2 separate regions of the Homo sapiens genome follow, and region 1 is linked to region 2. A link means that fine-mapping ties the variant in region 2 to the expression of a gene that starts in the linked region. Tissue or cell type: unexposed skin. Region 2 holds a variant in brackets; the other region holds the start of a gene. All regions are shown on one strand. Distances are between the middles of the regions.

Region 1 (4,000 bases), 32 kb before region 2:
CCTTCCTTCCTTCTGACTTCTTCATACAGATGATTAAGATGCTGAATAATAGTTACTTCTCTCCCTAGCTGCTCTTTTGTTTTGTGTTGTTTCTGAGACAGAGTCTCACTCTGTCACCCAGGCTGGAGTGCAGTGGCGGAATCATAGCTCACTGCACCCTCACTGCAACCTCAATGTCCTGGGTTCAAGAAATCTTCCCACCTTAGCCTCCCAAGTAGCTGGGACTATAGGCACGCGCCACCGCACCTGGCTTTTTAATTTTTTATAGAGATAGGGTCTCACTGTGTTGCCCAGGCTGGTCTCAAACACCTGGGCTCAAGCAGTCCTCCCGCTTCAGCCTCTCAAAGTGATGGGATTACAGGCCTGAGGCACTGCACTCAGCCGCCCTTGCTTCTTTTTTTTTTTTTGAGACAGAGTTTTGCTCTGTGGCCCAAGCTGGAGTGCAGTGGCACGATCTCAGTTCACTGCAACCTCCACCACCTGGGTTCAAGCGATTCTCCTGCCTCAGCCTCCTGAGTAGCTGGGATTACAGGTGCCCGCCACCATGCCCAGCTAGTTTTTTTTTTCTTTGAGACAGAGTTTTGCTCTTGTCTCCCAGGCTGGAGTGCAATGGCGTGATCTCAGCTCACTGCAACCTCCGCCTCCTGGGTTCACGCAATTCTCCTGCCTCAGGCTCCTGAGTAGCTGGGAATACAGGTGCCCGCCACCACACCCGGCTATTTTTTATATTTTTAGTAGAGACAGGGTTTCACCATGTTGGCCAGGCTGGCCTCGAACTCCTGACCAAAGGAGATCCGCCTGCCTCAGCCTCCTGAGTAGCGGGGATTACAGGCGTGAGCCACCACGCCCGGCTAATTTTTGTATTTTCAGTAGAGACAGGGTTTCACCGTGTTCGCCAGGCTGGTCTCAAACTCCTGACCTCAAGTGATCCACCCACCTTGGCCTCCCAAAGTGCTGGGATTACAGGCGTGAGCCACCACACCAAGCCACAACAGCCCTTTTCTGGACGCTACTTTGGGAGGCTGAGATTACAAATGTGAGCCACCATGCCTCACCTGTGTGTTGTTTTTATTTGTTTTTATCTGCTCATCTCAAAAAAGAAAGTAAAATTTCCAACCAATAAATTCATCCCACCCAAATCCCCTACTTCCTTAAGCTGTGCCCCCAAAACACCGAGCAGAATTGCAAATCCCATAATAAGTGCTTTCTGGCCGGGCGTGGTGGCTCACGCCTATAATCCCAGCACTTCGGGAGACTGAAGCGAGCGGATCACCCGAGGTCGGCAATTCGAAACCAGCCTGACCAACATGGAAAAACCCCATCTCTACTAAAAATACAAAATTAGCTGGGTGTGGTGGCACATGCCTATAATCCCAGCTACTCGGGAGCCTGAGGCAGGAGAATCACTTGAAGCCGGAGGTTGCGATGAGCTGAGATCGTGCCACTGCACCCCAGCCTGGGCAACAAGAGCGAAACTCCATCTCAAATAAATAAATAAATAAATAAATAGCGAAAAAAAGTTCTTTCTAACACCTCCCTACTGAGACCGCCATAGTGCCCTATGACATGTATGAGCTCTCTCTCCCTCTCTCTTTCTTTCTCTCTCTCTCTCTGATGAATAATAAGCTTGAATGTGTTCAATCACAGGTACATTCCTGGTGGTCTTTGACTGGGGAAGGAGGGGTGACCGGCCCCTTTAAAGGGAGATCTGTGAGCCCTAGAATAATATCAAGAGGTGCAGTGATTCAGGGAAGTGGGTCCATTCTGTGTGGGGTGTGTAGAAGGTAGAGGGACAGAAAAACTTTAGAGGATGATAATAATAATGGACACCAGCAGCCTATTTAATCAAATCCTCAATACTGACACTGCTTTCTGAACTGGCTACCATCATTAGTCCCCTTTTGCAGATGACAAAACCTAAGTCCTAGCCAGGCATGGTGGCACACACCTGTGGACCCACCCACTTGGGAGGCTGAGGCGAGAGGATCGCTTGAGCCCAGGACTTCAAGTCCAGCCTGGGCAACATAGCGAGAGCTTACCTCAAAAACAAAACCAACCGAACAAAACCCCAGAGGCTCCAAAAAGTCAATTACTTGCCTGGGTTCCTGGAGCTCTAAGGAGGCAGTATTCGCACCAAGCCTGCCTGCTAATTTTCCTCCCGGCTGCCCCTAGAGGTGCTGAGTGGTCATTGTGACAGTATCATTACACAAAGGAAGCTCTTGGGGTCACAATGCGCAGGGCTGGACCACCCTTGGATGCAGCCTGGGAAGGAACATGAGGATCCTCTGAGAGACCAGGGACAGAGGGAGACCCAAAGATCTGGTCTGTAGCTAAGTGAATTTTCTAAAACTCATTGATTCACACGCCATCCCTTGAGGTAGGTGCACTGTCCTCGTCCCTGATGTACAGAGGTGAAAACTGAGGCTCATGGGAGCTTAATGACTTATTCCAAGATTACCTGGCTAGTAGTCTCAGTTGTTGGATTCTCTGATGACCCATTTTGGAGGTCATATTCAACTCTCAACTATTGCAGGGGGCAAATGATTCAAAAAGCAGCAAACTCAGCCAGGCGCGGTGGCTCATGCCTGTAATCCCAGCATTTTGGGAGGCCGAGGAGGGTGGATCACCTGAGGCTAGGAGTTCGAGACCAGGCTGGCCAACATGGCGAAACCCCGTCTCTACTAAAAATACAAAAATTGGCCGGGCGTGGTGGCGGACACCTACAGTCCCAGCTACTCTGGAGGCTGAGGTGGGAGAATCGCTTGAATCCAGGAGGAAGAGGTTGCAGTGAGCTGAGAAAAAAAAAAAAGCAACAAACTTACACACTGAAAAACTGTGGTTTCATTAAAACACACACACACACATACACACACACACACACACACACACACACACCCTTCATCCATGTTTTCTTTCTATTTTTGTGATGGGGTTTCGCTCTGTCACCCAGGCTGGAGTGCGGTAGCGTGGTCTCGGATCACTGCAACCTCTGCCACCCAGGTTCAAGCGGTTCTCCCGCCTCAGCCTTCTGAGTAGCTGGGATGACAGGTGCATACTACCATGCCCAGCTAATTTTTGTATTTTTTTCTTTTTTTTTTTTTTTTTTTTGAGACAGAGTTTCGCTCTTGTTGCCCAGGCTGGAGTGCAATGGCGCAATCTTGGCTCACCACGACTTCTGCCTCCTGGGTTCAAGCTATTCTCCTGCCTCAGCCTCTGGAGTAGCTGGGATTACAGGCATGCGCCACCACGCCTGACTAATTTTGTATTTTTAGTAGAGATGGGGTTTCTCCATGTTGGTCAGGCTGGTCTTGAACTCCGACCTCAGGAGATCTGCCCACCTCGGCCTCCCAAAGTGCTGGGATTATAGGCCTGAGCCACTGCACCCGTCTGATCCATGTTTTCTAAATAGGTAGAGGTAAGCAGGTTTTGTGGGTTGAAGTGATCTGGGAGGTCTTCCTGCAAGAGGTGAGCCTGAGAACTTGGAATGCTGGTCTCCAAGGGAGACAGAGAGGAGAGCATGGGAGACACTTGTGATCTAAGCAAAGGCAAGAAAGTCCCAGGTGACTGAGCAGAGGCGGAGGGTCAGGGGAGGCTTGGAGTCTGAAGCTGAAGGTCAGAGGAGAGAGCTAACTCTCAGAAGGTGTGAAGACAGGAAGAGATTGAGAATAGGCAGGACCTAGGACAACTGCAGAGCAGGGGAAAACCAGTAAGAAAGTGCGTGGCAGGCCGGGCACAGTGGCTCACACCTGTCATCCCAGCACTTTGGGAGGCCAAGGCAGACAGATCACTTGAGGTCAGGAGTTCGAGACCAGCCTGACCAATGTGGTGAAACCCCGTCTCTACCAAAAATACAAAACTTAGACGGGCATGGTGGCAGGTACCTGTTATCCCAGCTACTTGGGAGGCTGAGGCAGGAGAGTCAGTTGAATCCAGGAGGTGGAGGTTGCAGTGAGCTGAGATCGTGCCACTGTACTCCAGCCTGGGGGACAGAGTGAGACTC
Region 2 (4,230 bases):
TTTGAGACCAGCCTGGGCCACGTAGGAAGACCTTGTCTCTACGCACAAACAAATTAGCTGGGCGTGGTGGCGTGCCCCTGTGGTCCCAGCTACTCAGGAGGCTGAGGCAGGAGGATCGCTTGAGTCCGGGAGGTTGAGGCTGCAGTAAGCTATGACCACGCTGCTGCACTCCACCCTGGGTGACAGAGTGAGACCCTGTCTCAAAAAAAAAAAAAAAAAAAAAAAACAAGTATGCTTAGTGTGAGTGTGACTCTTGCCACGTAGAAAGCACCAGATGTTATATTTTAATATGGCTCATTCAGTAAAACATCCGCAGGCCCAGAGAGTGCCAGGCCTGTAGGAATGACCCAACCCTGGGGAAGCACAGGGAAGAAGGCCACTGGGGACTCTGGGGAGACCAGCCTGGCCTCCCCGGCCCCCTGAGGCCCTTCCCTGACTCCCTGTCCTTAGACTGCATCCAGGTGGATCCCCCCGAGCGGCCCCCTCCGCCCCCCAGCGACGATCTCACCCTCTTGGAAAGCAGCTCCAGTTACAAGAACCTCACGCTCAAATTCCACAAGTACTGCCTGCTCACTCGAGGGGGGCCCAGGGTGGGGGAGGCAGCACACTAGGCACTCTCACCCCAGCAACTACTTCCCTAAGGTGGGGACAGGGCCCCCCCGCCCGCGCTGGTGCCTGCTGGGTGAGCACTTCCCCTGCCAGCTGCAGAGTCAGCACGTGGCAGGGGACGCTGGCACTTGGGGCCGGAAGGGACCCGAAGACGCCCCTGACCCTCACCCGAGCCTCCTGCCTAGGCTGGTCAATGTCACCATCCACTTCCGGCTGAAGACCATTAACCTCCAGAGCCTCATCAATAATGAGATCCCGGACTGCTATACCTTCAGCGTCCTGGTGAGGCCCCCCGGGAACCCACAGGGCTCCTGAGTTCCAGGGCAGGGACCTGGTCAGGGAGTGTCTTGGGAGCACTGGCCAAGGGCAAGCGTGCGGGTGATGAGGGAGGGAGCCCGGGGTCTGTCAGGCCACCTGTCATGTGGACCTTGGGGCTTGGGGCTGCCAAGGTTTACTCTGCCCCCAACTGGCCCCCACAGATCACGTTTGACAACAAAGCACACAGTGGGCGGATCCCCATCAGCCTGGAGACCCAGGCCCACATCCAGGAGTGTAAGCACCCCAGTGTCTTCCAGCACGGTGAGCCCCTGAGCCCCAGACCAGCACTGACCAGGGGCCCTGGCCTGTCCTGGGATTCCCCAAGCCCCAGATCAGCGCTGCCTGGGGGCCGTGACCTCCCCAGGAATCCGCTGAGCCTCAGATCAGCACAGACCAGGGACCCCGTCCTGTGCTGAGATCCCCCAAGCCCCAGACCAGCACTGACCGGGGTTCTTGACTCACCCCAAGCAAGCCCTGAGCCCACTGACCAACCAAAACCAGCCGTGCAGCCCCCTAGGTCTCCAGCCTGGCCTGGCACCAATGCTAGCCTCCCAAGGCTCCATGCCATCCTTGGCCCTACCCGCTCTGCCCTCCCCGCAGGAGACAACAGCTTCCGGCTCCTGTTTGACGTGGTGGTCATCCTCACCTGCTCCCTGTCCTTCCTCCTCTGCGCCCGCTCACTCCTTCG[A/C]GGCTTCCTGCTGCAGAACGTGAGGCTTCTGCGTCATGTGTGCTGGTGTCCTCCCCGCCTGGCCCTGGGGCGATAAAAGCCAGGGCTTTGAGGGTCCTGTGCCTGGTCAGGCCCTCACCCCGCCTGCCTTCTGCAGGAGTTTGTGGGGTTCATGTGGCGGCAGCGGGGACGGGTCATCAGCCTGTGGGAGCGGCTGGAATTTGTCAATGGCTGGTACATCCTGCTCGTCACCAGCGATGTGCTCACCATCTCGGGCACCATCATGAAGATCGGCATCGAGGCCAAGGTGCGTCCTGCCAACACCCTGGGCCCCAGGTCCCATCCCTGCTGTCAGTGCCTATCCGGGGCCATATCCTCCCCCAGGCCCCCCAAAGGAAGGGCTGGGCCAGATAGGTTGACGCAGCTCCCACCCGCAGAACTTGGCGAGCTACGACGTCTGCAGCATCCTCCTGGGCACCTCGACGCTGCTGGTGTGGGTGGGCGTGATCCGCTACCTGACCTTCTTCCACAACTACAATGTGAGTTTTGCACATGCAGCTGGGCCTTCCACATGGTTACTCCACACCCTCCAAATAAATCCCTACACACGCAGCCCTCACCAGCCCCGGCCAATGGCCCCTTGCAAGCCTCCTCCTCCTACCTGCCCACACCAGATATATCTGTCACTGCACCTGCGCGGGGCCCCGGGAGCCTGCTCCTTTGTGCCCACCCAGCTGAGTCTAGCCGTGCGTTGCCCTCGGACCCCCTCAGACGTGGCCACGCCCCCTCTAGGCACCCACTGGCTCCCATGACCACACCGGCTGTGCCCTCGGCAAGGCCCCGCCCCTCCCACCCCCATCTGGGTGCCCACAGCTGACCTGAGTTGTGGCCACACCCTCAACGAGGCTCCCTCTGCCCCAACCCAGATCCTCATCGCCACACTGCGGGTGGCCCTGCCCAGCGTCATGCGCTTCTGCTGCTGCGTGGCTGTCATCTACCTGGGCTACTGCTTCTGTGGCTGGATCGTGCTGGGGCCCTATCATGTGAAGGTACATCTAACCCCTGATGTCCCTGACATTGACCCTGTGACCTTGTCATTGACACTGTGACCCCCAGATGACCCCTTGGTGACTGCTGGGAGTCTGTCCACTGTCCCCTGTGGTCCTTGGTGACCCTGACACTGACCCTGTGCCATTATTGTTGTCACAGTTGTTGATGACCCTATTTCGACCTGAATTACTCCCCTCCTGCTCTATCTACCCAGACCCTAGGTCGGCCCTGTGGCCCTGTCATTGACCCGTGGTCCCGGCCATTCACATGGGACCCCAGCCTGGGACCTGGCCATTCACATAGTGACCCCAGCCTGGGACCCGGCCATTCACGTGGGACCCCAGCCTGGGTCCCGGCCATTCACGTGGGACCCCAGCCTGGGACCCGGCCATTCACAGGGGCCCTAGCCTGGAACCCGACCATTCACATGGTGACCGCAGCCCGGGACCCGGCCATTCATGTGGGGCCCCAGCCACCAGCTCCTAGCCATTTGCATGGGACCCCAGCCTGACCCCAGCCCCCGGTTCCTGGCCATGCCTTGGCTCCCTCTGACCCCGCCGCCCCTCTGGCAGTTCCGCTCACTCTCCATGGTGTCTGAGTGCCTGTTCTCGCTCATCAATGGGGACGACATGTTTGTGACGTTCGCCGCCATGCAGGCGCAGCAGGGCCGCAGCAGCCTGGTGTGGCTCTTCTCCCAGCTCTACCTTTACTCCTTCATCAGCCTCTTCATCTACATGGTGCTCAGCCTCTTCATCGCGCTCATCACCGGCGCCTACGACACCATCAAGGTCAGCCGCATGCACCCAGCCCTGAGCTCGGGCTCTGGGTGCCCTGGAGTCTGCCATGAGGGGGTCTTGGGGACACCGCAGGGTGAACAGAGAAGACCCAGGAGAGAATATGGGAGACTCTATGAAACCAAAAAGAGGGTGGTTCAGAACTGGGGGGCGCAGGGGGATGTCAAGGTGGGCTTGGGCCAGGAGGGGGCCTGAGTCAGTCTTTGCCAACAGGGCAACCGAGTCATAGAGTTTATTTATTTATTTGTTTATTTGAGACGGAGTCTTGCTCTGTCACCCAGGGTGGAGTGCAGTGGTGCGATCTTGACTCACTGCAACCTCCACCTCCCGGGTTCAAGCAATTCTGTCTCAGCCTCCTGAGTAGCTGGGACTACAGGCACACGCCACCACGTCCAGCTAATTTTTGTATTTTTAGTAGAGATGGCATTTCACCGCATTGGTCAGGCTGGTCTCAAACTCCTGGCCTCAGGAGATCTACTGCCTTGGCCTCCCAAAGTGTTGGGATTACAGGCGTGAGCCACCACGCCCGGCCTATTTTATTTTATTATTAAAGTATTGTTCTTTATTTTATTAGAGACAAGGGTCTCACTGTGTTACCCAGGCTGGTTTCAAACTCCTGAGGTCAAGTGATCCTCCCACTTTGGCCTCCCAAAGTGCTGGGATTACAGGCGTAAGCCACCACACCCAGCCTATTATTATTATTTTTTTTTTGAAATGGAATCTTACCCTGTGGCCCAGGCTGGAGTGCAATGGCATGATCTCGGCTCACTGCAACCTCCACCTTCTGAGTTG

What was found. PIP is the estimated chance that this variant, and not a neighbour inherited with it, causes the effect. A credible set is the group of variants that fine-mapping cannot tell apart.
Region 1: SAXO5 starts here. The variant in region 2 is the best candidate, but not a certain one, in a credible set for the expression of SAXO5 in unexposed skin (GTEx, PIP 0.85).

The regions. Positions count from the first base shown.
Region 1 is chr19:7,495,306-7,499,305 of GRCh38, forward strand. SAXO5 (stabilizer of axonemal microtubules 5) reads left to right here and starts at 2,243. Exons shown (of 9, transcript NM_198534.3): 1 at 2,243-2,377.
Region 2 is chr19:7,527,070-7,531,299 of GRCh38, forward strand. It overlaps MCOLN1 (mucolipin TRP cation channel 1), which reads left to right. Exons shown (of 14, transcript NM_020533.3): 5 at 451-559; 6 at 795-891; 7 at 1,089-1,188; 8 at 1,528-1,634; 9 at 1,752-1,901; 10 at 2,032-2,133; 11 at 2,521-2,643; 12 at 3,217-3,432. Among named protein-coding and RNA genes, the nearest start is that of PNPLA6, 6.5 kb to the right of the region's middle. The variant A/C (reference allele first, on the strand shown) is at 1,616.